Linked DNA regions of Homo sapiens. The protein of the gene in region 3 interacts with the protein of the main gene of each other region in a biochemical or structural test. Each region holds a gene or a part of one and is shown on either strand. Other genes may lie near its edges.

The links.
Region 1: the proteins of NHERF2 (region 3) and KCNJ1 form a complex in vitro, tested with the Homo sapiens proteins (2 studies listed by BioGRID and IntAct, with this or other methods).
Region 2: the proteins of NHERF2 (region 3) and SLC26A3 form a complex in vitro, tested with the Homo sapiens proteins (2 studies listed by BioGRID and IntAct, with this or other methods).
Region 4: the proteins of NHERF2 (region 3) and PODXL form a complex in vitro, tested with the Homo sapiens proteins (3 studies listed by BioGRID and IntAct, with this or other methods).

The regions. Positions count from the first base shown.
Region 1 is NC_000011.10:128,864,297-128,871,957, forward strand, and holds the start of KCNJ1 (ATP-sensitive inward rectifier potassium channel 1), read right to left. Parts: upstream 3,001-7,661; 5' UTR 2,877-3,000; exon of another isoform or gene 2,454-2,876; intron 2,360-2,453; exon of another isoform or gene 2,257-2,359; coding exon of another isoform or gene 2,227-2,256; intron 1-2,226. UniProt on the Homo sapiens protein: Inward rectifier potassium channels are characterized by a greater tendency to allow potassium to flow into the cell rather than out of it.
Region 2 is NC_000007.14:107,772,224-107,779,246, reverse strand, and holds part of SLC26A3 (chloride anion exchanger), read left to right. Parts: intron 1-965; coding exon 966-1,072; intron 1,073-2,540; coding exon 2,541-2,610; intron 2,611-2,702; coding exon 2,703-2,795; intron 2,796-4,374; coding exon 4,375-4,470; intron 4,471-5,093; coding exon 5,094-5,327; intron 5,328-7,023. UniProt on the Homo sapiens protein: Mediates chloride-bicarbonate exchange with a chloride bicarbonate stoichiometry of 2:1 in the intestinal epithelia. Plays a role in the chloride and bicarbonate homeostasis during sperm epididymal maturation and capacitation.
Region 3 is NC_000016.10:2,023,031-2,029,914, reverse strand, and holds the start of NHERF2 (Na(+)/H(+) exchange regulatory cofactor NHE-RF2), read right to left. Parts: upstream 3,014-6,884; 5' UTR 2,910-3,013; coding exon 2,697-2,909; intron 1,740-2,696; exon of another isoform or gene 1,719-1,739; intron 334-1,718; coding exon 133-333; intron 1-132.
Region 4 is NC_000007.14:131,553,625-131,561,011, forward strand, and holds the start of PODXL (podocalyxin isoform 1 precursor), read right to left. Parts: upstream 3,005-7,387; 5' UTR 2,736-3,004; coding exon 2,636-2,735; intron 1-2,635. UniProt on the Homo sapiens protein: Involved in the regulation of both adhesion and cell morphology and cancer progression. Functions as an anti-adhesive molecule that maintains an open filtration pathway between neighboring foot processes in the podocyte by charge repulsion.

The DNA.
Region 1 (7,661 bases), on a different chromosome or scaffold from region 3:
GCTGGTCTTGAAATCTTGACCTCAGATGAGCCTCAGCCACCAAAAGTGCTGGGATTACAGGTGTAAGCCACTGCACCAGGCCTATTGTTGACTTTTCTAGGGGTCTATCTTTTATATGTCTCTACACTAATTTTTTTCTTCAGCATTTTTTGAAGATGTTTGTTTTTGTTGTTTTCTTTTTCCAATTTCTGCACACCCTGCTTGTTCATGATGATTTCTGAACCACATAATCGAGCCAACCACTTTTTGCTATTTCACAGCAGTACTAATACTATTCCTGAACCATATATATTTCAGGAGAAAGAGCAGATTGGGAAAGCCTAGGCCCTTTTCTGTATACTTTTGGCTTGAGCCTAGGTCATCACAGTCTTGAATGTGGGAGGGTGAGTGGAAGGAAAAGGGTCTGTGCCATTCAAAGTGTGCTCTTTTTGCGGACTTTGGGAGTCTCTGGCTCCTGTTTCAGAGCTCCACTTCATCCTCGCCTGTCCCCATCACTCTCTGCAGCTGATTGGCCACCAGACTTTGTGTCTTCTCCCTCTTGGTAATCTCCTCCCTGATTACCCGGCCGTGGTCTTACCCTACTCTAGTCCACCTTGCACTGTGCAGGCAGAGCAACTCTTCCACAATGTAAATAAGATCTTACCCCGGTTCTCACCACCTTCCGGACACTGCCCAAGTTCCTCAGCATCACATACTAGGTCCTTCATCGTGGCACCCTGCAGCTTCCCTCACCCCTCCCCTGGCCACCCACCCTCAGCCACACCAGCCTGGTATTCCCTGTGTAAGTCATGCTCTCTCTCATTCTTGCATATTTTTGTAAATGCCATTTCCTTGTTCTAGAATGTTCTTCCCCCTGCCTCCAGTAGGCCCCTTCCTGCCCACCCAGCGCATTTAGGATCATGCTTCCATGAGGTCCTCTGTAGGAAAAGTATGATGTACTTTTCTGTGCAGGCAGCGATGATACTATGAGCTACATTTCTGTGTCACAGTCCCCACTCATCAGGTATCTCTCCCATTAGCGTGTGAGAGCCTGTTTCCATGCACATAGCCCCTAGCCCAAGTACCTGCCCTCTAGAGCAAAGCATTTCCCAAGCCATTCAGTGGTTTCCCAGGACCTAGCATCCAAAACACAATGAGTTCTAATTACAAGCTTGTTGAAAGGCAAATGAAGAAAAAAACCTGTATGTATAATAATAATAGTCATGAGAAAGACAAGAATGAAGAGAAGAAAGACAATAGTCATCACTGGCATCTTAAATTATGGAGCCAAGGGGAGAAACATTTGGGTCACCCTCAGGATCAAACTGCCAGGCCAGAAGCAATTCCACTGAGAGGGCACCAGGAAGCCTTCAATGCATGGAAACCCTGGAGCAAGTAAAAGGCAAAGCATGTGAGTCACAGCTGAATCCCTGGACAATCACTGAGCTGTGACAAGGTGCAGGGTAGACTCATAACCTAGCACAGAAAAACACATTACTGAGGAAAGGAAAAGAACGTGAATGGGGAATTTTGAGACTTAGCTCTTCACAGAAAAGCATGCTTGGCAATTACAAACTTCTTATATTAAAAAAAATCAGGCAAACCAAAAGTCATTAAAGCATTAAAGATTAAGACCCACTCACAAGGAATTCACATACTCTGCTTCTTTACAAGGGCAGTCTTGCACCTACACTGACTTGGTGCACCTCCTTACACAGAAGAAATCCACCTTCATGACTTGAGTATAAAAAAATGCTTTTCTGATGGCCCATACGTTCCCAGATATCTCCACCCCATCATGCTCTTAAAAGCTGAAGCTGACTTAGTGAGAATCCATTTACACTAAACAGTGTAGAGTAAGACAACACAAGCCAAGCCCATGACTGAAGGGAGCCCACAAAGACTGGGCAGCTCCTCCAATGTAACCGAAGATTCAACCAAAGATTCTAACTGCCCTCCAGCCCCAGGGCTACGGAATGGCCCAGGGAAGGCAGCGTGCAGCTCGCAACTAATAATCCAGGTACAACCAGCAGATCAAAAGCATCCAGTGAGTGGCTCTGCCAAGTCCCTGTCCATAAAAGGTCCATAGCACAATCACTATGTTTTGCTCCATTTTGTAAGCCCAGCTAAAAGGAGAAAAATTCAATCATTTTTCCTAAAGATTGCTGGTTGCGAAAGACCAACTCCTTTTAAGCGTCTATGCACCAAATCTGTAAGATACAGATATTGGGAGAAGGGGCTCCATACCTGTTCAGAGCAGAGATAAACAGTTGGCATTCACTGGTATAGAGCAATTGTCACAACAGTCATTAGGAAGCTGAACAAATGTTGAGAAATCCAAATGTATCCATTCAGAATGGTGCAAAATTCCTATAAAGTCCTACATCAGAAAATGAAAGAAAGACATTTGGGTGAAGGTAATCAAAATGTCTGGCTAACTCTTGCCTTTTCCTGATATATGTTTTCCATAATAGACCCCACTAGCACCTTGATCCTCTACCTTAAAGATGGAAACGGCTTGGCAGAGGTTGTGTTACTAGGCAAGGTCTTGCTACAATTGAAAGGATGCCACCAGAGATGAAAACCCTACATACATCTCTGCCACCAAAAGAAGACTTTGGAATCAGGCATGATGCAACCAAAGATTCTTACTGCCCTCCAGCCCCAGGGCTGCGGAGTGACCCAGGGAAGGCAAGATGCAGCACACAGCTAATAATCCACATGTAACCAGCACACCAAAAGCATCCAGTGAGTGAGTTAAAACCATGCTTCTATCTATCCCCCAGGAGTGGACAGACAAGTCTGCCTAGATTTGAGGCGGGGAAAAGAGGTCTAAATTTTCACAAGAATTAACTTCTTTTTCCTACAAAGAGACAATGAGGTGTTTCTCCTCTTACCTCATGGATTGCTGGAGTAAATGTAGAAACAAAAACTCATTTTCTTGGTCTCCAAGAAAGCAACCAGATTCTCGATGTGAGCAAGTCCCTGCACCTTTGATGCAAGAGTTTGGATATGCTAGGTGAGGGTACCCGAGGCCCTGTTGATTTTATGAGTCTGTGGGCCAGCTCAGACCGGCTGCCAACTCATCTGTATGCAACAGTTCTCAAAGAACATAGTTTACTTTATAACCGGATCCAACAAGAGTAGGCGTGGCAGTTAAGTGAGTGAGATACCAAAGGTGTTGAGCTACCAAGGCTAACTAAGAAGGATTTGTTTATGGAACCCTGGCTTGGAACCAGAAGGCCGGTATGCTCATGTCGATGTGTCTAAGTCAAAGGCATGAAGTTGAACACGTGCGCACATGAGGCTGGATGTTACAGGGCAGGGAAGTAGGGGTCCCCAAGGAGCCCCTCACAAATGTCTCCTGTCCTGTGAATCACTCAGTGGCCCTAGAACAGCAGTCCCCAACCTTTTTGGCACCAGGGACCAGTTTCATGGGAGACATTTTTTCCATGGACCAGGGAGGTGGTGGGGGAGGATGGTTTCGAGATGATTCAAACACATGACATTTATTGTGAACTTTGTTTCTACTGTGTTTACTTATAATAATTACTTTACTTCTATTATATTCTATTATATTCCTTATTTCATTATATATTATATTCTAATATATAATGAAATAATATTCTATTACATTATATAATATTCTATTCTATTCTATAATATTATAGAATGAAATAATGAATATGGGATGAAATAATGAAATATTCTATTCTATTATAGAAGGAAATAATATTCTATTCTATTCTATGAAATAATATTCTATTATATTCCTTATTTCATTATGTATTATATTCTAATATATAATATAATATATATTATGTATTATATTCTAATATATTATATAACATATATTATGTATTATATTCTAATATACTCTATAACATATATTCTGTATTATATTCTAATATATTATATAACATATATTCTGTATTATATTCTAATATATTATATAACATATATTCTGTATTATATTCTAATATATAATATATATTCTGTATTATATTCTAATATATAATATATATTATGTATTATATTCTAATATATAATATATATTCTGTATTATATTCTAATATATAATATAATATATATTATGTATTATATTCTAATATATTATATAACATATATTACGTATTATATTCTAATATGTTATATAATATATATTACGTATTATATTCTAATATATTATATAACATATATTACGTATTATATTCTAATATATTATATAACATATATTACGTATTATATTCTAATATATTATATAACATATATTACGTATTATATTCTAATATATTATATAACATATATTACGTATTATATTCTAAATATTATATAACATATATTACATATTATATTCTAAATATTATATAACATATATTACGTATTATATTCTAATATATCATATAATATATATTATGTATTATATTCTAATATATAATGAAATAATTATACAACACCACCATAATGTCGAATCAGTGGGAGCCCTGAGCTTGTTTTCTTGCAACTAGACAGTCCCATCTGGGGGTGATGGGAGACAGTGACAGATCATCAGGCGTTAGATTCTCATAAGGAGCGCACAGCCTAGATCCCTCGAATGCGCAGTTCACAAAAGGGTTCAGGATCCTGTGAGAATGTAATGCCGCTGCTGATCTGACAGGAAGCGGAGCTCAGGCAGTAATGTGAGCCATAGGGAGTGGTCAAAATACAAATGAAGCTTTGCTCACCTACCACTCACCTCCTTCTGTGCAGCCTGGTTCCTAGCAGGCCACAGACCAGGTGTGGGGACTCCTGCCCTAGAAGGTCAGGCTGACCTGACTTTCTCTTGGCCATTCACCAGCCACCCTGGTCCCGGGGCAATGCAGAACTTTACATCACAGACTTTGCACTTCAGTGGTGGGGTTGAGACCCTGCTCTACCAACTGCAAGTTACCTAGCTTCTCACCTCAGAAGTCTACAGTGGGAAGCTCAAGAGATAGCATATGTAATACACTTGTCATTGAATGAACAGGGTTGAAATCCAACCTACTCCGAGTGTCAGCCTTCTGTCTTCCTCCTCAGCCCACCCCCTAGGGCCATCTCCCACTAGGAGACTGAGGGAGAGGAGTCCTTACCCCACACCCCTCCTGAGTTGCTCTCTTCCCACTGTTCCTCACACTTCACAGCTGGTAATCACTTGAAGCATTGATTGGGTTCGCAAGAAGCAAGAGTGGGTGACTGTGGGCTGGCCACATGCCCCTTCACTGCCTGTCCCCTCCTCCACTCAACACCACACAAGATTGTAGGAGGGATCAACCTCAGCTCAAGAGTCAAAGAGATGAGAAGCATCAGAGCAGCAGCGTAGCTTGGAGACCATACACCAGGTTCCTGACACCAGTCCCCGGGGCAGGACAGCTGAGTCTCCATGATGCTCAGAGAAGGGATAAAATGGAAACAGATGCAAAATTTCACGGAAAAGGCACTTTTGCTTTCAAACATTTATAAGCATAACCAGTCATTACAGATAAGGAAAAAGAACATAGTAGGTTGCTATGGTCTGAATGTGTCTCACAAAATTTATATATTGAAACATAATCCCCATGAGATAGTTTTAAGAGGCAGGGCCTTTAGGAGGTGATTAAGTCATCAGGTAGAGCCCTTCCAGATGGGGTTAGGGCCCTTATCAAAGGGCTCGAGGGAGGAGGTTCATTCTCTTCTGCTGTGAGGACACAGTGTTTGTCCTCTTTCTGCCCGTCTGCCTTCCACCATGTGATGCAGTGGTCAAGGCCTCAGCAGACATCAAACCTGCCTGTGCCTTGGTCTTGGACTTCCAGCCTCCATAACTCTCTGTGGTTTATAAATTACCCAGCCTCAGATATTTTGTTACAGCAGCCCAGACAGAACAAGACACAGGTGTAAGTGAAGCCACTTGCAGAAGGGTTCCCATGCGAAGTGAGGTGGGAGGAGACCCACACTAAGGAGCTACAACATGGTGGGGGAAAGAGCAACAGGCGGGGAGTCCACGCTCCTGCTAAATCTGGCCTTCTCCCTTCACAGGTGGCCTCCTGTGGTCACGCCTGTCCCTGCTGCTGCTTGCCGTCCTTGGGTTCACCCCCTCTGTCCACAGGCCCTCCCTTCTGCACCCCTCACTGCGTGGCCCTCTACCTACCTTTGCAGGCCTCCCAATCCCCCCAGTGGGATATTCCCAAGCCTCAGGTTCACCCAACCCTACCCCTGAGCAGGCCTGGGTGTGGAGGCCAGGAGAACACGCCCTGCAGCCCAACGAAACGCAGGGAGAGGAAGTGTCCAAGGCCAAAGGGGCTGCACTCTGAAGGGACTGAGCACAGGAGGACATGAAGGGAGGCAGTCCCCGGGAGAGGTGGGCTCCTCCAAGGGTGCCTTTGGCTGGAGCACTCTTGCACGGCCGTGGAATCTTCCTTAGACTCCATGGCAGTCTAGGATGCATCCTCCCAACCTGCTCTCCCTCCTCCCCTCAGGGTCTGCCCTGAGTCCTGGTCTGAAAACTCCTCAGACAGCCTCCCTCTGACTTTCCTCACCTGGGCATCTCCTCCAACAAAATCTTGGCATTTTTAATCCCCTCTTGGCATCTGCTTCTCAGAGGCCCTGGACTGGTGCATGAGGCTCTTCAGATGGGATGTGAACTGTCAGAGAGCTTGGCAGGAGGCCCTTTGGAGTCCCACAGAACAACTCAGGAAAGGGGGCTTCCCTGACCCAATGTCCAGCGTGGAGGCCCTAGGGGGCAGGCATTCTGAGCCTCCCCACCTGTGTGGGCTGAAGGCGTGTCTTTGACTCTTGTGATCCAGCAGACAGCTGTGGAAATACAAACACATACAGAGAAACATGTGTCTCCCCCAGGTAAGCATTCATCCTCACAGAATAAACCCCAAACAGGGAGAAGTGTTTTTTAACTACTTCATTCATTTGCAAGGCAGGTACCTTTTGCACAATGGAGCCAGAATGTCTCATTATTATGCAGACCAGGGAGTTATCTTACCTTCATCCCCCACTCCTTGCCCCCAATCTTCAAAACTGGGCCCTTTTGGACCTGCTGGGAATGAGAAAGAGGACTGTTGCTAAGCAACAGGGAGGGCAGGGGATGCATTCTCCCTGTTCCACAAATCCTAGTCTTAAAGCACAAATGATAGCGTTTGCCCTGATGGAATCCTACACCTTCCAGTACCCCAGCGGGATGCACTCTCAGTCCTTCCGCCTTACCACTGTCTTCACGGAGAAATTCCGTTCCTGCTGTGGCGCCTGGCAACTGCTTCACTACCTCTGTAGCCATGAGACAGCCTGAGTCCTCCATGGTGGGATTGTGTGTGACAATGAGAAGACAGCCCAACTCCTCTTTCCCTGATGCAGTCCGGCCCCTCTGTGCTGTGTAGCCTCACCAGGTTCCCAACACTGATGAGGTTACACGCCCAGCATTTACTCCTCAGACTGGACCTGGAGCATCCCGCCGCTGGACCTGAGTGAAGACCAGAGTCAACAGACGGTTTTCTCTTTCTCTTAAAGAAGTTTGGAACATTTGAAACATATTATCCTATTCATGACTAATATTCCAACAGGAGTCATTCAGATAAACAAAAAGCCTTTCCAGGTGCTTGTCTGATTTAGAGGAAGGCAGCACATTCCCATTCACACAACAGAGGGGCCAGGTGCCTCTGAAAGAAGAGCTGATGTGT
Region 2 (7,023 bases), on a different chromosome or scaffold from region 3:
GGCTCCCCCTTGCTCTCACATGCTTTGCTATTTTAACAGGGTCAAAGTCTGTGGTGTAAAAATGCCTGTTAACATACCCTTAGGTATTTAAAGATCATAACTAGTAAACTACACTTGGTTTACTTTTGTGGGGCGTTTTAACACCCTTTTGGCATGCTAAAATTCTTATAAAGATAGCAACCATTAATTAAATCAACAGACCAAGAGTAAAACATTAGTATAAGCTCTACCAGTTAATTTGCTGATTTTTTTTTAAGAGATAGGATCTCCCTCTGTCACCCAGGCTGGAGTGCAATGGTGCCATCCTAGCTCACTATAACCTCAAACTCCTGGGCTCAGGCAATCCCTCTGCCCCAGCCTCCTGAGTAGCTATGACTACAGCTGCACACCACCATCCTCAGCTATTTTTTTTTATTTTTTGTAGAAGCAGATTCTCACTATGTTGCCCAGGCTAGTCTTGAACTCCTGGCCTCAAGTGATCCTCCCACCTCAGCCTCCCAAAGTGCTGACATTACAGGTGTGAGCCTTCACGCCCAGTCTAATTTGCTGATTTTAATGAACAGCAGCTGGTTCTATTAGGTTGGTGCAAAAGTAATTGCAGTTTTTGCAATTATAATTATCACTGTGACAGATAATTCCATTTCCTAAATGAGTTGGAGATGGGATTAGAAATAAATACACTTTCTTTGAATCCTCTTATATTTGTGTGTGTTTTTGTGGCCCAGAACCTGAGCCAGCAGAAATGACCTCTTGGGAAAAGTGTCTTCTGTGCACTTTGCTCCCTGGCCCAAGATGACAACTTTCAACTTCCACCACGTCTGGCAAATTTTTAAATTTTTTTTATAGGGACAAGGTCTCACTGTCGCTACAAAAAAAAAAAAAAAAAGTCTTTTTAAAAGACCCCGTCTCGACATTGTACTTTAATCAAAGTAAATTGTAGTGTATGTGTTGCTTTCTTTTCACAGTTAATTTGGATCATGACCTTCATCTTCACCATTGTCCTGGGACTCGGGTTAGGCCTGGCAGCTAGTGTGGCATTTCAACTGCTAACCATCGTGTTCAGGACCCAATTGTGAGTGCTCAAAGTGCTCTGCATCCTGGCAGGCTTGGACCTGCCCAAATCAGAAGAGGAAAAAAAATGTCACTGGCTAAAAGAACAGTAGTTGGTTGATAGGTGTGCATTTCTATCAGGATGGGGCAGTTTATCCTCCCTCCAGTTGCTCATCTCAAGGCCTGAAGGGCAATAGCACGGCCCAGCTTTAGAACATCAGCCCAGGGAGGAGACTTGCTGTTGGTCTGCTTCTGGCTTTGACTCCAGTTCAAATAAATCATATAAATCTCTGAGTCTATTCGCCCAGCTATAAACCAGAAGTAATTCTATTCCAAGCAGGTTTAATGTCTTTGCCTTGTACTTGTTAAACATGGAAATGTGTTACTGAGATTGTGAGATTGTTTCCATCTAGTGGATGGATTTCCTCTTTATAGGTTGTTAGATTGCCCTCGTACCTTTAAAATATGGAGCTGGATTAGAGAACTTCTCAAAGGCCCCTCTTACCTTAAAATTCCACAAAAGCCATTTGGAATTCTTGATTTTTAATAATCATTCAGTCCAAGCATCTTTTTAATTTTTATTTATTTATTTATTTATTGTCTTTTGAGACAGAGTTTCGCTCTTGTCGCCCAGGCCGGAGTGCAACGGTGTAATCTCGGCTCACTGCAACCTCTGCCTCCTGGGTTCAAGCGATTCTTCTACCTCAGCCTCCCAAGTAGCTGGGACTATAGGTGCCTGCCACTGGCTAATTTTTGTATTTTTACTAGAGACAGGGTTTCACCGTGTTGGCCAGGCTGGTTCGTGAATTCCTGACTTTGGGTGATCCGCCCGACTTAGCCTGCCAAAGTGCTGGGATTACAGTCATGAGCCATGGCGACCAGCCTTGATTTTTTAAAATCTCTGCCATGTAACATCACTACCATGTGGTTGCTCAGCCTATTTTGAATTACATGGTGTGACAGAAAAAGATGCTTCCTGGGGAACTAAGGAGTTCTACAACAGAAATTGTTATCACAAAGTCAATCCCTGACTGATGGAATACATCCATATTGAAATACTCCCGAACTCTTTCATTTATTTATATTTCATTCCATTTTTTACTGGGAACCCATCAAACATAGAGACAAACTGAATGGTCATAAGCAAGTCATTTTACTTTTCCATGTTCTCATCCATACAACTGGGTAATCATATCCACCTTACCTCATGGAATAACTGTGATATTCACAATCAAAATGGCAAAAGCATATGGAGTGCTTTGTAAACTGTAACATGACAAATGGGAGGCACTTTTCAGGTGCTGTGAGAGGACACAAAGATAAGTAAAACAAGGTGTTCACCTTCCAGAGTCTCTGATGGCATGATGATTCCCCAACCTTTTACATTTTGAAAAGTGAGCCTGCTTTGGTATGCTGGAAAAAGTCAGTGTTAGCCTTATAGGCTTAACAAACATACATGAATGATTTACTTGGTGTTTTTCTCCCTACAGTCCAAAATGCAGCACGCTGGCTAATATTGGAAGAACCAACATCTATAAGAATAAAAAAGATTATTATGATGTAAGGGAGATTCATGTTTTTCTTTGACTTGCTAAATGATATTAACTATGGATCTAATGGGCAACACCTAACAATGCTTCTCTGCCTTACAGATGTATGAGCCAGAAGGAGTGAAAATTTTCAGATGTCCATCTCCTATCTACTTTGCAAACATTGGTTTCTTTAGGCGGAAACTTATCGATGCTGTAAGGTTTGGGGTTATTTAATTTTTTTCCTTGTAATCTTACTGAATTCTGGGAATGTCATTGTTCTGTAAGGTCATTGTTGAGACTGGGTTGTGTCACATATGTTGAGGTGGGGTTGTGTCAGTATTTTTTGTCCCACGTCCCAGAACAGATGAAACTACCTTATGGGGAGTTTGTTAATAGGTTGGGAAATAAGCCTCTTCAGATGACATCTAATATAGAAGAATCCTTTTCTCAAATTCTGATGTAGAGTAAAAGAAATTTACCAAGTTTTGGGCTGCTAGCTTTTAGTAGATGTCATCCTACAGATTTTCTTTGGGCATCAACTTCAGAAACAATGAAGGAGCATTTAATATTTGACCACATCCTCAAAGAGATTCAGTATAACAGTTGTAAATGAATAGTTAATACTGAATAACAATACATACTGAGTGTCCCTGGCAAACTGGAGAGATGATGACAAGGAAGCAGTCTTGACAGTTAAGAAAAAAAGCTCAGTCCTCCCTCTTGAAACATGCCTTTGGTCTACTCTGTACCTTGCATACAGCCTCTGCCTTAAACCTTAACTATTATTATTAGTTTGATATGCATCCGACATTTTTCTACCGAGTTTTTTGTTGTTGTTTGCAAAATGAGATTATATTGTATATTTGGTTTTCTGTACTGCCCTTTTCGATTACTCTAGTAAACTTCCATCTAACTATATTTTTTGTCAAGGATTTTTTTTTTTGAGACAAGGTCTCGCTTTGTCACCCAGGCTGGCATGATCACAGCTCACTGCAACCTCAAACTCCTGGGTTTGAGCAATCCCCCTACCTCAGCCCCCCAAGTAGATGAGACTCCAGGCATGTGCCACTACACCCCGCTAAGTGCTAAGTTTTAAATCTTTTGTAGAGACGAGGGCTTGCTTTGTTGCCCAGGCTGGCCTTGAACTCGTGGCCTCACGCAATCCTCCCACCTCGGCCTCCCAAAGTGCTAGGATTAGAGGCTTCAGCCACCACGCCTGGCCAAGGATTTTTTATTACATAATTTGATCCTCCTCTCTTACTTATCTGTAACTAAATATTACAGCAATAAGAATTCATTAGTGTTGAAAAAAACAAAGATTAGCCTCAAATATAATACTAAAATTATAAAATAAAATTGTACAATAATAAATAACATACCATTATAAATTTTAATAAGATAAAAATTACATACAAGCAGAATACTTATGTAGGTGCAACTCGTACTCAATAAATAGAAAATAAGTAAAATAAAATTCCCTAAGAGTTGTGTAGGTTCCAAACACAAACAGATTCAAATAGAGTTTATGTCCATTCATGGATAATTTATGGATGAATCCTGGACTGTGTTATACAAAAGCTTTTGACTGTTGATAACTGCATACAGGTGGAGCAGACCATGGGTCTGACCCAATGTTCTGGCTGATATTGTTTAAACCACTTTTAAATTTTGTCACAAATATTTTTATTATCTGTCCCAATCCCTCAAATCACTCCAGTTAAAGTTGTTAGAACTATGCTATATAAATAACAGAATATTCAGTACTCTTGTAACACAGCAATGGGTTTCTCAGGTTGGCTTTAGTCCACTTCGAATTCTACGCAAGCGCAACAAAGCTTTGAGGAAAATCCGAAAACTGCAGAAGCAAGGCTTGCTACAAGTGACACCAGTAAGTTCCTTGACCACATTTCTATGCATTATAGCTAAAAGCTTAGTAAAGGATGATTCAAGGTGTAGTTCCATTCCTTTAAATGAAATGCCAGATAAACAAGGGATTTCATGTGTCAATGAGTGTTATATTTTAAAATGACATCCTTCTGAGGGTCTCCCTAAAATTTTTATTCTCCTGGGAAAAGTACCAAACACAATTGTCCACAATCTTGTTGTTGTTTGAGACAGTGTCTTGCTCTGTGGCCTAGGCTGGAGCGCAGTGGTGCGATCACAGCTCATTGCAGCCTTGACCTCCCAGACTCAAGCGACCCTCCCACCTCAGCCTCCCAAGTAGCTGAAACTACAAGCACATGTGCCACCATGCCTGGCTAACTTTTTTATTTTTTGCAGAGATGGAGTCTTACCATGTTGCCCTGGCTGGTCTCAAACTCCTGGGCTCAAGTGATCCTCCCACCTCAGTTTCCTAAAGTGCTGGGATGACAGGCATGAGCCACCACACCTAGTCCAATCCCATCGTTTGGCTCAACTCAGAATCAGTGCTTCTGAAACTCACTGGCTATCTCTGACATACACAATGTTTTTCTTGGTCACAGTTTTCATACTTGTTATCCTCTCCTGCAGAAAGGATTTATATGTACTGTTGACACCATAAAAGATTCTGACGAAGAGCTGGACAACAATCAGATAGAAGTACTGGACCAGCCAATCAATACCACAGACCTGCCTTTCCACATTGACTGGAATGATGATCTTCCTCTCAACATTGAGGTCCCCAAAATCAGCCTCCACAGCCTCATTCTTGACTTTTCAGCAGTGTCCTTTCTTGATGTTTCTTCAGTGAGGGGCCTTAAATCGGTAATTTCTTTGTTCTTAATGGAAACAACCAATCAATGACTAAAGGTTAAAAAAAAAATTGTATTTGTGGGCTGGGCACAGTGGCTCATGCCTGTAATCCCAGCACTTTGGGAGGCCGAGGTGGGTGGATCACCTGAGGTCAGGACTTCGAGACCAGCCTGGCCAACATGGCGAAGCCCCGTCTCTACTAAAAATACAAAAATCAGCTGGGTGTGGTGGCGTGCACCTGTAATCCCAGCTACTCGGGAGGCTGAGGCAGGAGAATAGCTTGAACCTGGGAGGTGGCAATTGCAGTGAGCCGAAATTGCACCACTGCACTCCAGCAATACAGTGAGACTCTGTCTCAAAAACAGCAACAAAAAAAACTGTATTTGTGGAAGGATGCTCCTTTAGGTAACATGCATTTAATTAGAAGCAAATGATAATCTTAGAGTATTCCATGGAGGGAAAGGTGGTGTTCAGTGGACTCTTGAAAGGGCATTTTTCCATGAGACTGGGTACTATATTGAAGGGAATCAAATCTACAGTTCTAACGTATGCTGAATCTGCTGGTGGACAACTATGCTCACATTCCTTTCAAATTTCAATTCTGTGGTGTTCTCAAATCTTTGTGGGCATTGTGTCTAAATTATTCTGAAATCAGAGAAGATCTGGAAAGGTCCTGGGAAAAAATGTAAGAGTGGATCCTTTTGTTTTATCCTCATCCATTATAAGCTGATGAAATTTCACTTGGCTAAAACCCAAATAGATATATGAAAGAATAAATGTCACATGTGATTTCAAAACACGACTGAAACAATCAGATTGCAGTGTGTTTTCTTTCCACAGATTAATCATATTTCTAAAATAAATTAGTTTCTAACAGAAATGCAGAAACATATAAAAAGAAAATTTAAGAAATTCTACATCTTTCTCTCTTTTTCTTGGGTTTTCACAAAAAATCTGCCCAAGTGAGAGCTGACCTAAGATAAGACCTATTCAGCATGGGTGAACTGGATACAAAATTAGAAAATGGAAGAATTTTTTTTAAATGTTAACATCATGTAACTCTCAAGTCTACTTGCGTTTTCTTTTCTTTTTTGGTTTTGGTTTTTGTTTATTTTAGCTTTTGATTACTTTAGCTTTTGTTTCTGCATTTTCACTCACACACACACACACATTTATTTTTTGGTTCTAGCAGTATAACACAAAGGACAGGGGCTCTAATTCTTAGTTAAGTGCCTAGAAGAGGTTCTGAAAGTGTTTACTGATGATGGCAATGACATTAATGATCATCTAACCTGATCAAACAATATAAGCTACTTTTCTTACTTTACATGATCTTACTCATATCACTACTGGTATTTGTTCTTAGCCTAGAGACCAGAAAAATGTATAAACATTCATTGGTGCTAGATACATCCATTCATTGTGGACAAAAATAATTAGCAACTCATGGTCCATAGGTTCTTTTTTAAAACTTTTATGTAGCAAGAAAGCTCTAGTTGAGATCATCCCAAAGAAGACACTATTTTAAAATTAAATCAGAGTTGTTCTTATGAGTTTGAGACAGAACATTTTCCCATAATACTTCCTTCAAGAATGATCATTTTTAACTTCTTACTGAGGAGAAGGGTTCTTTTGTTTGGGTTTATTTCTGTCACAGAGCCTTGTTTTTAACTTTAGTATCTTCTGACACTATTATCTCTTTTCAAAA
Region 3 (6,884 bases):
GCAGAAAAGGAGCCCCAAAAGGCAGAAGAGACCAAGACTTCTGGAGGTGACCAAAGGCAAAGATCGTCGTCAAAAGCTGAGAGAGCCTCTGGGAGAGGCTAGGGTGGTCCCTGTGGGCCAAGCCCGCCATACCTTCTTGCCAGCTTCGGAGCTGTGGCTGCCGGTGTGTGCCCAGTCTGGCTTCGGCTCCCAGGGGTCGTGGGCGGGTGGGAGCCCTCGCTGGGCCATCTCCTCGGTACAGGTCAGCTGCCGCCGGCGGAGCTCCTCATCTGTCTCCTGGTCCACCACCAGCAGCCGAGTCTGCCCCTCCACAGCCTTGATCCTTTGCACCACCTGGGGCGAATGGGCGATAGGAGCGGGTCAGTGGCCCACATTCCGGGCAGCACATGGGCAGTGGCACCACTCTGGGCTGGCCCAGGCGTGCGGACAGGCGGCTGGTCTGCATGGGCGGGTGGCTGCACCAAGAGGCCTGCCGGCCCCGCCCCCCACCCCCGGACTCCAGCGGCTCCCTCCCTCTGCACTCAGGCTCCGGACACTGAGGCCCAGGCTGTGAGGGCTTCAGGGTGCTCCCAGAGCCTTGCCCTTAGCCCAGGGTCTTCTCCAGGCGGGGCTGGGAAGGGGCTGCAGGATAGGGCCGCTGGGTAAGTCCTGTCTGGAAGTGACAAAAATGGTGCACAGTGGACCTTCAGGTTTTCAGTCTGCCTGTCCCTGTGCGCGCATGCATCCATCTGTTTCAAAGTCTGTGTCTCCGTCCAGGTTTGAAGGAGAGGTGTGTCTCCCTGGGCCCCAGTTTGAGTGTGTCTGTGCCCATTCCCGTCATTCTCTGCCGTGCAGTGTGGGAGTCTAAACTCCTGACCCTAGGCCTTATATCTACCTCCAGGCCATGGCCATGGGCCCATTCCCTCTGGATCTGCAGAGAGGGGAAGGGCTGGGCTCCTGGCTCGGGCACCCACACACAGCCAGGGAAGCAGGATTCAGGTGCAGCCGGCGAGGGGGAGAGGCAGGTGCACCTGTGGACAGCTGTGGCTTGGTGGCCGTCGGTGTGTGCGTGCAGGTGCCTGTGAAGTGTCTGGACCACGCGGGGGGCCAGCGCACACCCGCGGAGAGAAAGCAGTGCCCACTGGGAAGTGGGCAGGAAGAGGGGCAGCCCTACTCCCACCTGCGGCCTGGGGGAGGGTGGACAAGGCTCCCCACCAGCTGCCGGGCTCAGCAGGGGTGGTGAACAGATAGGAGGGACTGAGCCAGGCCCATCTTCCCCCAGCCCTCCTCTCTCCCCATGACCCAGAGTGAGACAAGAGGAACCCAGTGCCCAGCTGCTTCTTGACTATGTGTCCCAGACAAGTTACCCTCAATCTCTGGCATCAGTTTCCTCAACTGTCAAATGGGGCAGTAACTGCCCCTCTTGCCCTCCTGGGGCAGTGGGGAGAGTCCACCATGGTCTGTGTGTCCAGTCCTCAGAGACCAGCCCCACAGGGCCTTGGAAAAGCAGGTGTTCCCAGGGCGAGGGTGGCAGTGACTATCCAACAGCAGCCTGGCCCCAGCCCTGGCAGCCCTACCCTCAATCCCTCAGGTCCAGGCCCCTGGCCTGATCCCCACATTCTTCAGCAAACAACCTTACACAGCAGACACTCTGGGTGGAAGGCATGGGGCCGGCCGACAGAGTGACAGACAAGGCACCAGGTAAACAGGAGACCAGCTCCAGGTCCAGCTGAACCAACCTGCTAATCTCTAGGTTCCAGGACCAGCCATGTAGACAGGTTATGGATTCATCGGTGCTGTGAGGGACAGGGGACCTGGAGGAAAAGGGGTGTGTGGACGCTGGACCCCAACCAGGGTCTGGAGGGAGTCCCTGGCCTGTGGGAGACAGACACACCTCAGGGGTCAGAACCCACAGAGAAAAGGCTCTGTTCTCCTTAGCCAGGAGGCAGGAGGCTTCGGCCAGTAACCCCAGCCAGGCTAGGCAGCCTCTGAGGAGGAGTAGTGCCTTTGTAGCTAAGGAATGTGGTTGCCAGCAATGACCAACTCAGCCCGGTCCCAGACACACCAGCTGGGACACACTAGAGTACAGACACAAAGACTCACCGGCCTGCAGACAGTGATGAGTACACTAGCCAGGCGTGCACACACACAGAGCCCAGCTCCCATACGCCCAGGAGTCCAGACCTGCACACACACAGGCACACGTGCAGACCTGTATACTCACACACACACTACAGCACACACAGGTGCAGACACACTGATGCCTTTACTGCGACCCCTCCTGGGTACGCACAGGCAGGCGCATGCACACATGGCTGACCCCAAAGGGACCTGCATACACACGCCCAGCTGTGTTCACACGCACACGTGTACACACACACCCAGGCAAAAGCACCCAGGTCTTCACCTTTCCGGAGGGGCTCCAGGCGGCCCAACACCCTCCTTCACGGCACACTGAGGCCAAAACGCGACCAAAGGGCGAGGCCAGCGGCCAGGAGCCGCAGTGCGGGCCCCTCCCTGCCAGGATGCCCCCCCCCACCCCCGTGCAGGACTGAGCTTCCTGCGCCGGGACTCCGAAGGCGCCGGGCCGCTGCCTCCCGACAACGTCCGCGTCCTCCCCGCGGGAGCCCCCTCGGGCCCCCGTGCGACCCCTGCTCGCCCCAGGGGGACGCGCTCGGGGAGGGGGCGGCGGGCCGGGGGCGAGCGCTGGCCCCCACCTGGTGGTGCGTCTCGCCCTCCACGTTGACGCCGTTGACCTCGACCAGGCGGTCCCCAGCGCGCAGCGCGGCGGCCTCGGCGGGGGAACCGGGTTCCACGCGCCGGATGAACTGCCCGCGGCGGCCCTTCTCGCCGTGCAGGTGGAAGCCGTAGCCCTGCTCTCCGCGCACCAAGCGGCACAGGCGCGGCCGCAGCGGCTCCGGCGCGGCCATGGCGCCCGCTGCCCACCGGCCGCCCGCGGGCAGGGGCGCGGGGGAGCTCGGGGGCGGCGGCGGCGCTGGGCACCCGGCGGTGGCTTCAGCGGCGGCTCCTGTTCGGCTCCCGTCGCCTCGGGATCCGGCTCGGGCTCCGGCTCGGGCTGCGGCACCGCCTCCGCGCCCGCCCCTTCCCCGCCCCCGCCGCCCGGCCGCCCCCGCCTCCAGTCCCAGCCGTCCCGGCCAGGCCCCTACCTCCGCGCCCGGCCAGCCCGAGGCGGGGCAGGGGGAGGCGGCAGGGCTAGGGGACCCCTTAACCACCGGGACCTCTCTGTCTCGCCCCTACTCTGGGCAGCCGCCTTGGTGCCAGCGCCTTTGCCTTCTATCCCAGGAACATTTATTGGATACCTACTGTATGCGCAGCATCGAGGCAGGTCTTGAGGTGGGCGACGGGTTGGACAAAGGGTCTCCAGGCCAAGGGACCCCGACAAAGGGGCCAAAGGGTAAGAACAAGGGCCACAGCCCTCCCCACCCTCCCCGGGAAGCCCTTCCGGACCCCCTTGCCTGTCTCCTCTCGGCTGTGTCTCACCTGGATCCCTCCCAGCCAGTGGCTGGGAGACTCCCTGGCCCAGGGCAGAGTCTCAGGAGGGCCCAGGAGGCAAAAAGGGCTTTAAAAGTGACACGCAGCAGCCCCTCCCTGCATCCTGGGGGCCAGTGGCTGGGAGACTCCCTGGCCTACCCACCGTGTTCGGCCTATCTGCACCGCGTCGGTTCCCACGCCCTGCTGCCATTCTTTCCCTTGGCCGGGCCGGCCCCCTCACTTGTGTCCCAGCCCACCCCAGGCCTGGACTGTGACTTTGCAGGGTGACAAAAGGATATGAGTCTCGAGGGTCCCTGCTACCCACCTCCTGACATGGGCTACACTCCACTGAATTATTTGGGCTCTAAGCTCTGGGTGTGCACAGGCGCTGCTCCACAGTGTCCACAGGCAGGCAGCAGGCCTCCCCTCCCCTGCCCACAGCCGTCCACGTCCCTCAGCCTCTACCTGAAGCACGAGTGTCCCTCCTTCCCCAACAGGACAGTCACCACCACAGTGAAATCATTTAGGCCTAAGTGCATTTTACCTGGAACAACCCTAGGGGACCGGCCACTTCACAGACCTGCAAACAGGCCTGGAGAGGGAAAAGACCCACGAAGCCTCCTCAGCTCCATTTGGGCCCAGGGATGTGAGATTCGGAGTCCATGCTATCTTCACCACCCAGCTCTTCCTCTGTCTCCAATATAGGAAGGTAGCTGAGTCCAGGCACAGCCCCAGTCTGCCCTCCTCCCCAGCCCAGCCAGGCCCCCTTGCACATACCTGGTTCCCAGGGGTCAGGCACAGCCAGCCCAGGCAATTCCCCATGTGAGCCGTAGAAGCAGGCTTGGCGCAGTCCTCCTCTCCCTCTCGTCTCTCCGGGGCCCTGGGCTGGGCTCCCCTGCCCCCACCCAAGCACAGGGCTCGCCTCTGGGCAGCCTCCTGGGCCATGGCCCCCTGGGTGCCCATATCCCGGCAGCTGCCCCTAAAAGCCACTTAGGCTGAGGCGCCGCGACTGCTCGCCACCCCAACCCCTGCAATTCCTGGGTAAGGCTGCTTCAGGCTCCCGCCCGGCCGGCCGCTTCCATCTCTCTGTCTGCATGTCCAGAGGCTGCCTGTCTGGCCTGTGGCTGGCCTCCCTGGACACAGCCTGGTGCTGCCACCCTTGGAGTCTGTGAAGATGGCTGTGGGCAGTGTGACCCACCACCACGCACCCCACATACCACACCTGTTTGGGCTTAGGGGGTCATCCCACACCAACCAGGTCCACCCAAAACCTGGCAGGCTGTAGCTTCCTGGCCACACTAGAGTCGAGGGAGGTGGCTGGATGGGAGACTCCAGCAGCCCCAGGTCCCCTGGGTAAGGGGGCTTGCAGACCTTACCCGCCCTGGGTGGGGCAGACGCCTGATCAGCCTTGGGCATACACCATCCTTCCCTGGCCCAGGACTCAGCTGATTCCTACTCCCAGTGACTGAAGATGGGCTGAGGGGCCGGAGCAGTGGCTCACGCCTGTAATCCCAACACTCTGGGAGGCCGAGGTGGGTGGATCACCTGAGGTCAGGAGTTCGAGACCAGCCTGGCCAATGTGGCGAAACCCCGTCTCTACTGAAAATACAAAAAAAATTAGCCAGGCGTGGTGGTGGGCATCTGTAATCCCAGCTACTGGGGAGGTTGAGGCAGGAGAATCGCTTGAACCCAGGAGGCGGAGGTTGCAGTGAGCTGAGATTGCGTCACTGCACTCCAGCCTGGGCAACAGAGCTAGACACCATCTCAAAAACAATAAATAAATAATTTAAAAACAAATAAAAAAAAAAAGATGGGATGGAGAACAGCATGGCAGAGGGAGGGGCCACAAGGGACATGAGGTCACAACCAGGGCCAGGAACCAAGGAAATATCACCGGACACACTGCTGCTACAGAGTTAACAAAAGAGTCCCCAAAGCCATGAAGGAGCTGAGGAGGGTAACAGAGTAGCAAAGGGCCGGGCAACAAAGGAAGTGGGCCTAGCAAAGCAGGGAGCAGGAGGAATGAGGCAGCCAGAGAGGAACCAGAGGTCACGATTTCAGAGGAGGTGCAGAGTCAGTGAGAGGGGACAGTGAGTCCAGGGGCCTGGAGGAACAGGCGAGGAAGGGTGACCTAGAAGCTCTCGGGGGCAAACCCTCCCAGGCCTCTTCTCCAGCCAGCCTCCGGAAGCTCTCAGCCCTGGTCCGAGGCTGACCTTGGCCCGTATGGGTGCTGCGCTGGAGGCAGAGAAAGGCGAAGGGAAGCACCTGGGCAAAGGTGTTCAGGGGCCGCAAAGTGCTTGGTGTCTCGAAGAAAGGGCTAGGGAGGTGGGCGGGAGGGAGTAGGGTCAGCATCGAGAGGAGGGTGGACTTTATTTTCCTGGTTCTGTGGGGTGCAGATGGGGTGTGGGTGACGTGGGCTCCCCGGGCCCCAGCAGGAGGGAAGAAAGTCAAGGCAGAGGCAATCAGAGGCTTGGGAGATCCCCCAACTCTCCACCCAACCCCCTTAACCCACGCCTGCCAGCATGCTACCCAGGCGTGGGTCCTATCCAGCAGAGGGAGAGCAGGTCTCAGCCGTTCCCCTGGGCTGTCGGTGGGGGGTCCACCGGGGTGGGGGCCGCCCGTGCACTCCTGTTTTGGCAGGACCTTTCCTTCGGGCCTTGAACCCGCATCCCTCCAGCAAGGTCCCAGCGATCTCAGGGAGCCCGAGCCTGGACCTGGACCGGGGCTCCGGGGTGTGGCCGTGGCCTGGGGCCCTGTCTGGGGGTGGGGCCACTATTCCGACTCCCGGTAATGGTCCAGAGCTGCTCAGGCAGGCGGGGCTTCCTAATGGACATTAATGGCCCTTCAAGCATAACCAGACCGCGCCTAGGGCCTCTTCCCTCAGGCTGCACCATGCCTCTCTTTACATTCTGAAACTGGAGCAGGCGGAGCCAGCGCGACAGAAGGAGGTGACCAACAGAGACCCACAGACCAGACAGAGAGAGAAGGCCGGGGGACTGCGACGACCCAAGAGTGGGGAGAGGCAGGAAACCGCTGCCGCCGACGGGGCGACCCCGCCCACCCGTCGTGGCCCCGCCCACTGCGGCTCTAGCCCCGCCCGTTGCTGGAGGCGCGAGTCGGACGCTACCGCCCGGAACAGTAGCCGCGCAGCGCCACCTGGCCGGAACTGGTGGCATTGCATCGTGCGAGGAGTTGCCCCAGGATCCTGCCCATCTGGCTTCCTTCCACTCGATCCAGTCCTGTGGGGTGGGGACTGGGGTGAGGCTGGCGCCCTAGGCCTGGTTGCGCTGCAGGGGAATAAGGGTGTGGAGTGGGGGAGGCAGAGAAGCCTCTCATGGGCTCTGTCTCCCCATCTTGGACCAGGCAAGCACCAGGGAACATCACTGAACGCCCCCCCGCCAGCCCCGCGAGAA
Region 4 (7,387 bases), on a different chromosome or scaffold from region 3:
CACTATTTTGTCCATGGTCATGCACATCTCTCTGACCCAAAGTCTGAGTGTTTCCACCCCACCAAGCTGCCTTTCTGTTGCCCAGAATTCATCCATTGAACATCAGATTGAGAGTACTGAATCAGCTTGTCCTTTCAGTAGCTGAGGGAACACGGAACCCCAGATATCTTATCATGGTGGAACTAGAGGTCCCTTTGGTTCTTTTATTCTATCTCACAAATAACGAAACGGAGGCACGGAGATGTGACTTACCATTGTGGTTCTGCCAGATGGTTATCAAACCAAAAAGCACTGAAAGGGGGTCTGATGAATTGTCCAACCCTTAAGGTGAATGCTTTCTTTGCTGTAGGCTGCATAATCTGCCCATATATTGGAAGGTAAGCTGGGGGAGAGGGGCAGGGATGGACCTGTCTGGGGATAATTCCTTTGTTGCAGAGACTCGAGCTATAAATCTTTCTTGCTTTGAATCAAATCACAGGATTCCAGCAGATGGGGGGCAGTGTTTATGCTATTCCCGATGACAGCAGCCCAGGCGACCACACCTTCAGAAGGACAGGGATGGAGCTGGCCTTACTGAGTCCCTAGAGGGTGGTGTAGAATGCACCATAGCTACTGAACAGACCAATCTTGCCGCAACATGCCCCCCACAAGCCTTTTCTGGCCTCAATACATGCAAATCATCATCACCATCATGATCATCATCCTCTCCCCATCCCCCACTTAGCACTTTGCACTTTTCTAAGTGCTTCCCAACAGTGCTGCATACTATAATGCATACAGTGCTCAGATAGGCCAAGTTACTTGCTGGTTAGAGCAGGCACTGGGTTATGGTCATTTTTGTTTGCCACATACCAAACTTCTGCCATGTGCCAAACCCTGTGTTAGGCCAGAAGTGGTGCTTCATGGAAGAGACATGGTTTCTGGCAGTGCCCAGGTGCCAGGAAAAACAGTGCCATCCTTGAAGCCAGCAGTGAGCTGGAGTCAGAGCTTTGCCCACTGGTGACTTATGAACATTTCCTTTTAGGGCAGACAGGGAGGGTCTTGTCCCACAGTGCCTCCCACTCCTCAAAGGAAGGGTGGCTCAGCTTCCTTAAGCTCAGAAGCACTAGGGACTAACCCCTCTTTCCTGACACAGCCCAACGCCCTTCTGGGTGGTTCTAAGAGGCTTCCCAACAAAAGGTTCGTATGAAGGCCCACCCTGAAGTCCAGCTGTCCCCAGAGTAGGGCTAAGGAGCCACCATACTCTCGTGTCATCTCAACCCTGCATGTCGTGTGGCTCTTCAGTGATTGCCACTCTGAAAGCTGTTCTGACTGTTCCTCACACTGCAGCCCCTCTTCCAGGGACACACATTCTTCCCCCCGCCGGGACCTTCCCTTTCTAGTCAGGCTGGTGGAGTCTCCCGCCGGCCACAGGAGGATGCCCACGCCTGCCTGCTCCCTGAGTGCCAGCGCCTGCCCACTACCAAAGGTTTCCTGCGGTGCAGAGGAGAGACTGTACTGCCCTTCCATCTCCCCTGGCCCCTTAGAGTCCAGTCCCAAACTGCCGGCACCTGCTCACAGCAGAATCCCTACCCTGTCTGTGCTGTCCCCGCAGTCCTCCTGGCCCTAGGGTGATCACACCACCTCAGCTCTTCCTGCAGACATGTGCTCAGGTGGGCAAAAGAGAATGAGAAATGCACCTCTCCCGTGGGGCTGAGCTGACTCTGGCTGTTCCCTAGGGGCTTAAGAACACCTGTTCTGGTTGAGTTTGCAGCCATCGCCTGTCCCCCAAAAGGGAAAGAGTAACATTTCACCTTGAAAAGAAACAGGGAGGGGATGTTTCTGAGGTGCAGGTGTTTCATGAGAGACAGGTACATTTTCTAAGGTGTGTCTAAAATGCAGCCCAATCCTATTCTACGAGAGAGAAGTTCCCGTTTGAACAAGTTCCCGTTTGAACAAGAGGATTCGAGGGGGGTCTCACCATCGTAGCCACGCACTAAGAAGCGATTGTTTTAGGGACACGGAGGTAGGACCCCCACTCAGCCAGGTGACTCTGGGACTGTGGAAGGTCCACTTACGACTCTGTACCTGCCCCAGCACGGGCTCAAGGAGTTGAGCCTGCACACATTACTTAGAAAAAACCTCTGCAAACGGGTAAGTACATCGCCCGCGTGGGCCGTGGCTGGAGGCTTGTCACCTGCTTCAGGGACTTCCTCGGGAGCCTCTCGCCTGCCTCTTTGCCTGGAATTAACGAATACACACTACAGCCCCTCATTCCCTCCAACACGAAGGAAAGGTGTAATCAGATCCCGAGAGTCCCGCAGAAGCGTGGAGCCTCGCGGTGCGGTCTCCCTTTTCTTTCCCATGCAAACCCACTTAGCACCGGCGCGCCCCTGTTTGCCCGGGCAGAATCCACCGCCCACTCCTCCCGAGTGGAGAGTGGAGACGAATCTACGCCCAGGCCCTGCACCTGCCGCGCTGCGGAGTTTGGAGGGGGCGTGGATGGTGCAAGGTCAGGGCTCCGTGTGTGACCCCGGCGGTGATAGGGCTGCTCGGGGTCGGACCACGCGGCGCGCCGGGCTTCCCTGCAGCTCGGCCGGGCAGGGGGCACATGGGCACGGTGGGAGTCCCGGCGGAACCCAGGCCGGCCACTCACCATTCTGGGAGGGCGACGGCGACGGCGACGGCGACGACGGCAGCAGCGGCGGCGTTGACAACAGTAGCAGCAGCGCCGAGAGCGCCAGCGCGCAGCGCATCGTGTCGTCGCCTCTGGGCCGGGAGCAGGTGGCTGCGGTGCCGGCGGAGGATCCGCGCGTCCGGGCGGTAGGAGCGTGGGCGCCGCCCGGGGAGGCCTGTGGGTGGCTCCGGAGGCCAGGCTGTGGCCCGGGGCTCCCGAGTCGCGCTGCGGCGGCTCTTCCTCCCTGCCGCTGCAGCAGAGCCGGGCTGGGGCGCAGAGCCAGTGGCAGAGGAGCGGCGGCGGCGGCGGCTGCGTCCTGGGCGGCGTCTGCGCGGCTGCGGCCCCACTGGCGGCTGCGGCTACTCCTGGCCCGTCCCGTCAGCGCCGGCCCCCGCCCCCGCCCCCGCCCCTCCCCCTCCCCCAGGAGCCCGCCAGCGGCGGCGGCCGGGCCGGGCGGGGCCGGGGCCGGGGCTGGGCGGGCGCTGGGCCGTGAACAATGAGCAGAGGAGGAAACTCCGCCCTGGAGCGCGACGGGCGGGAGGGCCGGCGGCCTCCGCGCCTTGGGGGGCTGTGTGTGCGCGGGGGCCAGGGCGGGGGGCTCCTGCGGTGCAGCCGGGCCCCGTCCACAGGTGTCCCGAACAGGTGTGTCCCCCCGAGTGCTTCTAAGTGGGCCCGGCGGGATCCCCCAGCACACCGCCGGGGCCCTCGCACTACGAGCAAATCCGGAGCGGGCGGACCCCCAGCCTTGCGTGGTAACTGATAACCATTCACGGCCTCCCGGGCTGCTGCGCGTTCTGCAGCGACCCCGGAGAAGCTCATCTCCCACCTGCCAAGTGCAATTCACCTGCCTGTGGGGCCCCCATCCCGCACGGCTTCTGAGCGGGGTCTCTCTGCAGCTAGGTGTGCAGCGGGCAAGCTGGACTAATTCACTCCTTCACCTCTCCAAGGGTAGGTTCCTTACCTGTGAAATGGAGATGATGGTTAAAAAACAACAGCAACAACAATTTCAGGGATGAATGTGTGCCAGGCTTTACATATATTAATTCTTTTACTCTTCATGACAACCATATTTTTAGCCTCATTTTGCAGACAGGGCAATTGAGTCAAAAAGAGGTTAAGAAACTTCCTGAGGCCACATAACGGGTAAGTGGCAAACCTGCCTCTGAGAGAAGTTTGGAGAAATACCGTGCACCGTGCCTGGAATATAGTAATTGCTCTGCAAGGAGTGGTTATTACTCTTATTCCTGCTATATAAAGAACAGCTATAAAGATTAGGGCTTTTGGGTCAAAACAGGCTGGGGCTCAAAACCTAACTGTGCCAATCTATTAATTGTAAAACCCTAGGCAAGCTATTCTCAGTACCTCATTTCTTTTTATCTGTAAAATAGGGATAATAACACCTACCTCAGGGGGTTGTTGGGAAACTTAAATGTGATCTTACAAGATAATACTTAGCCTAGGGCCAGGAACACAAAAGTCTCAATGAATGAAGTAGTTCGCCCTCCAAGTGAGGATCAGAGATATTTGCACACTGGGGGTGGGAGTGGGTGTTGGAGAATTCCGTAAACTGAGTTTATCCGGTGAAAGAACAAAGAAGTTCCTTTCCCCTCCCCCGCTCCCCTCCTTTTTTCCACCCCCAAAGCTGCCTGGGAGACGCAGACCCCAGGCCCGCCTGAAGAGGAGGCACATCGGCGGAGCCGGGAAGCGGAGGGGGCGAGGGGTGATTAACCTTGGAACCCGGGTACGGCGTAAATTTGGCTCACGTGACTCCGGGGTTGCTAATCTGGAGTCTATCTGCCAGATGGGGCTGGGTGGAGGGGTTTTCTCCAGGATCTAGCCGCGTCCCGGGCACAGGGGACTCCGTGAGCCCCTCAAGTCGGCTGCAAGCAGGCGATGCCTGCAGGGCACTGCGTCCCTGGAGCCGCGAAGGAAGCGCTGGAGCCCTGGCTGGGGTTCCGTGGCAGCCGGCCTCAAGCTTGGGAAGGGCTGACGGGGTTGTTTTCATCAGGAAGTTTCTGCAGGATCGTTCTGGCCCCGTTTTCCACACCGCATATGGGAAAGACAGAGGGTGTTCCCTATGAATACTCTGGGATATTTGTGTGTGTGACTATCTTTGATGTTTTTTTAGTACTGTTCCCCTGATATCATGTCAACAAAAGGCTTGTTTCTCTTCTGAAACCAAGCAATATATATATATATTTTTTTTTACACTGGGATTTTAAAAAATGTGTATCGCACTCTGATTTAAACAGTGTTTTTGCACTCAATCATTCAATTTATCTAAAAACTCAGAAGCAATCATGTTAACTTTATAAAGAGAGAGCGTATATTTTGAAGCTTAGGGCATTTTAAATTCACATGATTTGGGATTGGTGCCATTACAAGATCATGCAAAATTAAAATGAGAGCAGACATCTGGGCTTAGAGAAGACATAGAAAAGTTACAATTGTGCTGGACTCTCCCCAGTATCCAACAGCCCCCCTCAACTTATGCACAACGTGGCTTTCTGGAATGAGGCTGGCTGGGTTTTGAGGTCACTGGTGGCCACTGAGATGAGCTACCCCCAGGTAACTGGCCTGTGCCTTTGGCCCCATTTAGCATTGTGCTCTAACTAGCAAGCTCGCCAGCCCAGAACACCTGAGCTTATATTTGAAACCCAAAGCACTTTATGGGTGCTGTTTTTGAAGCTTTTCATCAGGAAGTTTCTGCAGGATCATTCCTTCTGGGATTTGTTGCATTTTGGTTATTTGTATACATGCGTTAGCTCTCCTAGCAGACATTCAGCTTCTTTAACATGGCGTCTTTCTTATTCATCCTTTACTTACTCAGACCACCAAGAACAGCACATCACTTTTTTTTTTTTTTTTTTTTTTTTGAGACAGAGTCTTGCTCCTGTTGCCCAGGCTGCCTCCGCCTCCCAGGTTCAAGCAATTCTCCTGCCTCAGCCTCCTAAGTAGCTAGGATTACAGGCATCTGCCACCACACCCGGCTAATTTTGTATTTTTAGTAGAGACGGGGTTTCTCCATGTTGGTCAGGCTGGTCTCGAACTCCCGACCTCAGGTGATCTGCCCGCCTCGGCCTCCCAAAGTGCTGGGATTACTGGCGAGAGCCACCGCATTTTTATCAAGCAAATGGTTTTGCTGCCCCATGGGCACAGAAGCCAATACTATGAAGCACTAGCTTTGGAAAAAGCAGCGGCTTTATTTGCAAAACTGGTCAGCAAAGAGACAGGAGTGAATTCAAATCTGTCTCCCCAGCCAGGCACGGTGACTCATGCCTGTAATCCCACAACTTTGGGAGGCTGAGGTGGGCAGATCACCTGAAGTCAGGAGTTTGAGACCAGCCTGGCCAACATGGTGAAACCCCATCTCTACTAAAAATACAAAAATTAGCCAGGCTTGGTGGCATGCGTCTGTAATCCTAGCTACTCAGGAGGCTGAGGCAGGAGAATTGCTTGAACCTGGGAGGTGTAGGCTGCAGTGAGCTGAGATTGCACCACTGCACTGCAGCCTGGGCAACAGAGCAAGACTCCATCTCAAAAAAAAAAAAAAGAAAAAATGTCTCCCCAGTTTGAGGCCTGGGGTAAATTTATGGGATCAGAAGGCAATGAAAAGATTTAGGAATGTTGGCTTGGCAGAATCTGATTGGAGGGCTTTAAATTTGACCATTTACAGAAAGGTATGTTGAGGCGGACTTTTAGCCCCACATCTTCCAAGCCATTGTACGTCTGGCTTCTGAGAGAGTTCTGGCATTCGGATTCCCATCAAGTCTCTTAGTCTTTTTAGTTCCAAGGGAGAATTCATTGTTTTGGGGTTGTTGTTAGAGTTCCAACTATTTTCTATTGCTTATGCTGGAGCAACGTGACATTTTGTTATCAACAGAGCAAGCCCAGTTTGGGCCTTTCCCTCAGTTACAACATCATACATATAGATACAGATACAGATCTATAGATACAGATCTTGAATGCAAATATGAATGTCACCTGGAAGATATTACGCAGGAACCCATGGCACAAGGTTACACATTTTTCCATGGCCCCTGGCTGTCAATGTTAGGGGCCATAATTCTCTGCCCCAGGTGCAATTTGGTGATGTTGTTTACCTAAGTGCATCCTTATGTGCAGACTCAGTAAGTCCTCTTGACCCTCATTCTAAGTAATACTGATCCCCAGTCACAACATCTAGGGGTGAGACAAAGCGTCCGCTACCACATCCCCCAAGAAAAGATGAGTGCACACATGTATCCATCCTGGAGCCACAGCTCCTACACATAAGGAGCCAGGGATGCTCTTACCTGGGCTTTCTAATCACTGACCTCTGAGTTCCTTGTGGGTCGAAGCAGTGTTTAATTCATCTTGGAATCCAGTGCCCAGTATGGTGGTGTCTGACCCCAAACAGGTGCATGACATTCAAATGCTGCATAGATGAAGAAGTGGTTGGATTTTCTCTCCAAGGTTGGGTTACCCCTGACTGCCAAGTGGTGCGGTTCTATGAATATCAGCTGGGACTCAAGTTGGGCAGCTCACCCCAAAGTCATGCCTTTATGTATTATTATTCAATAATATCTACCCTAATAGGCAGAGTGTGCTAGGTTCGGTGCACTGTGCTGAGAATGCAACCCTGTACACAAACATGACTAACATGTAGTAGGGGCTGTAACACATGGCACGGGTGGGCATGTGGGAAGCGGAGAGCAGGATGGCTCAGCCCCACCCGGGGAGGTCAAGGAA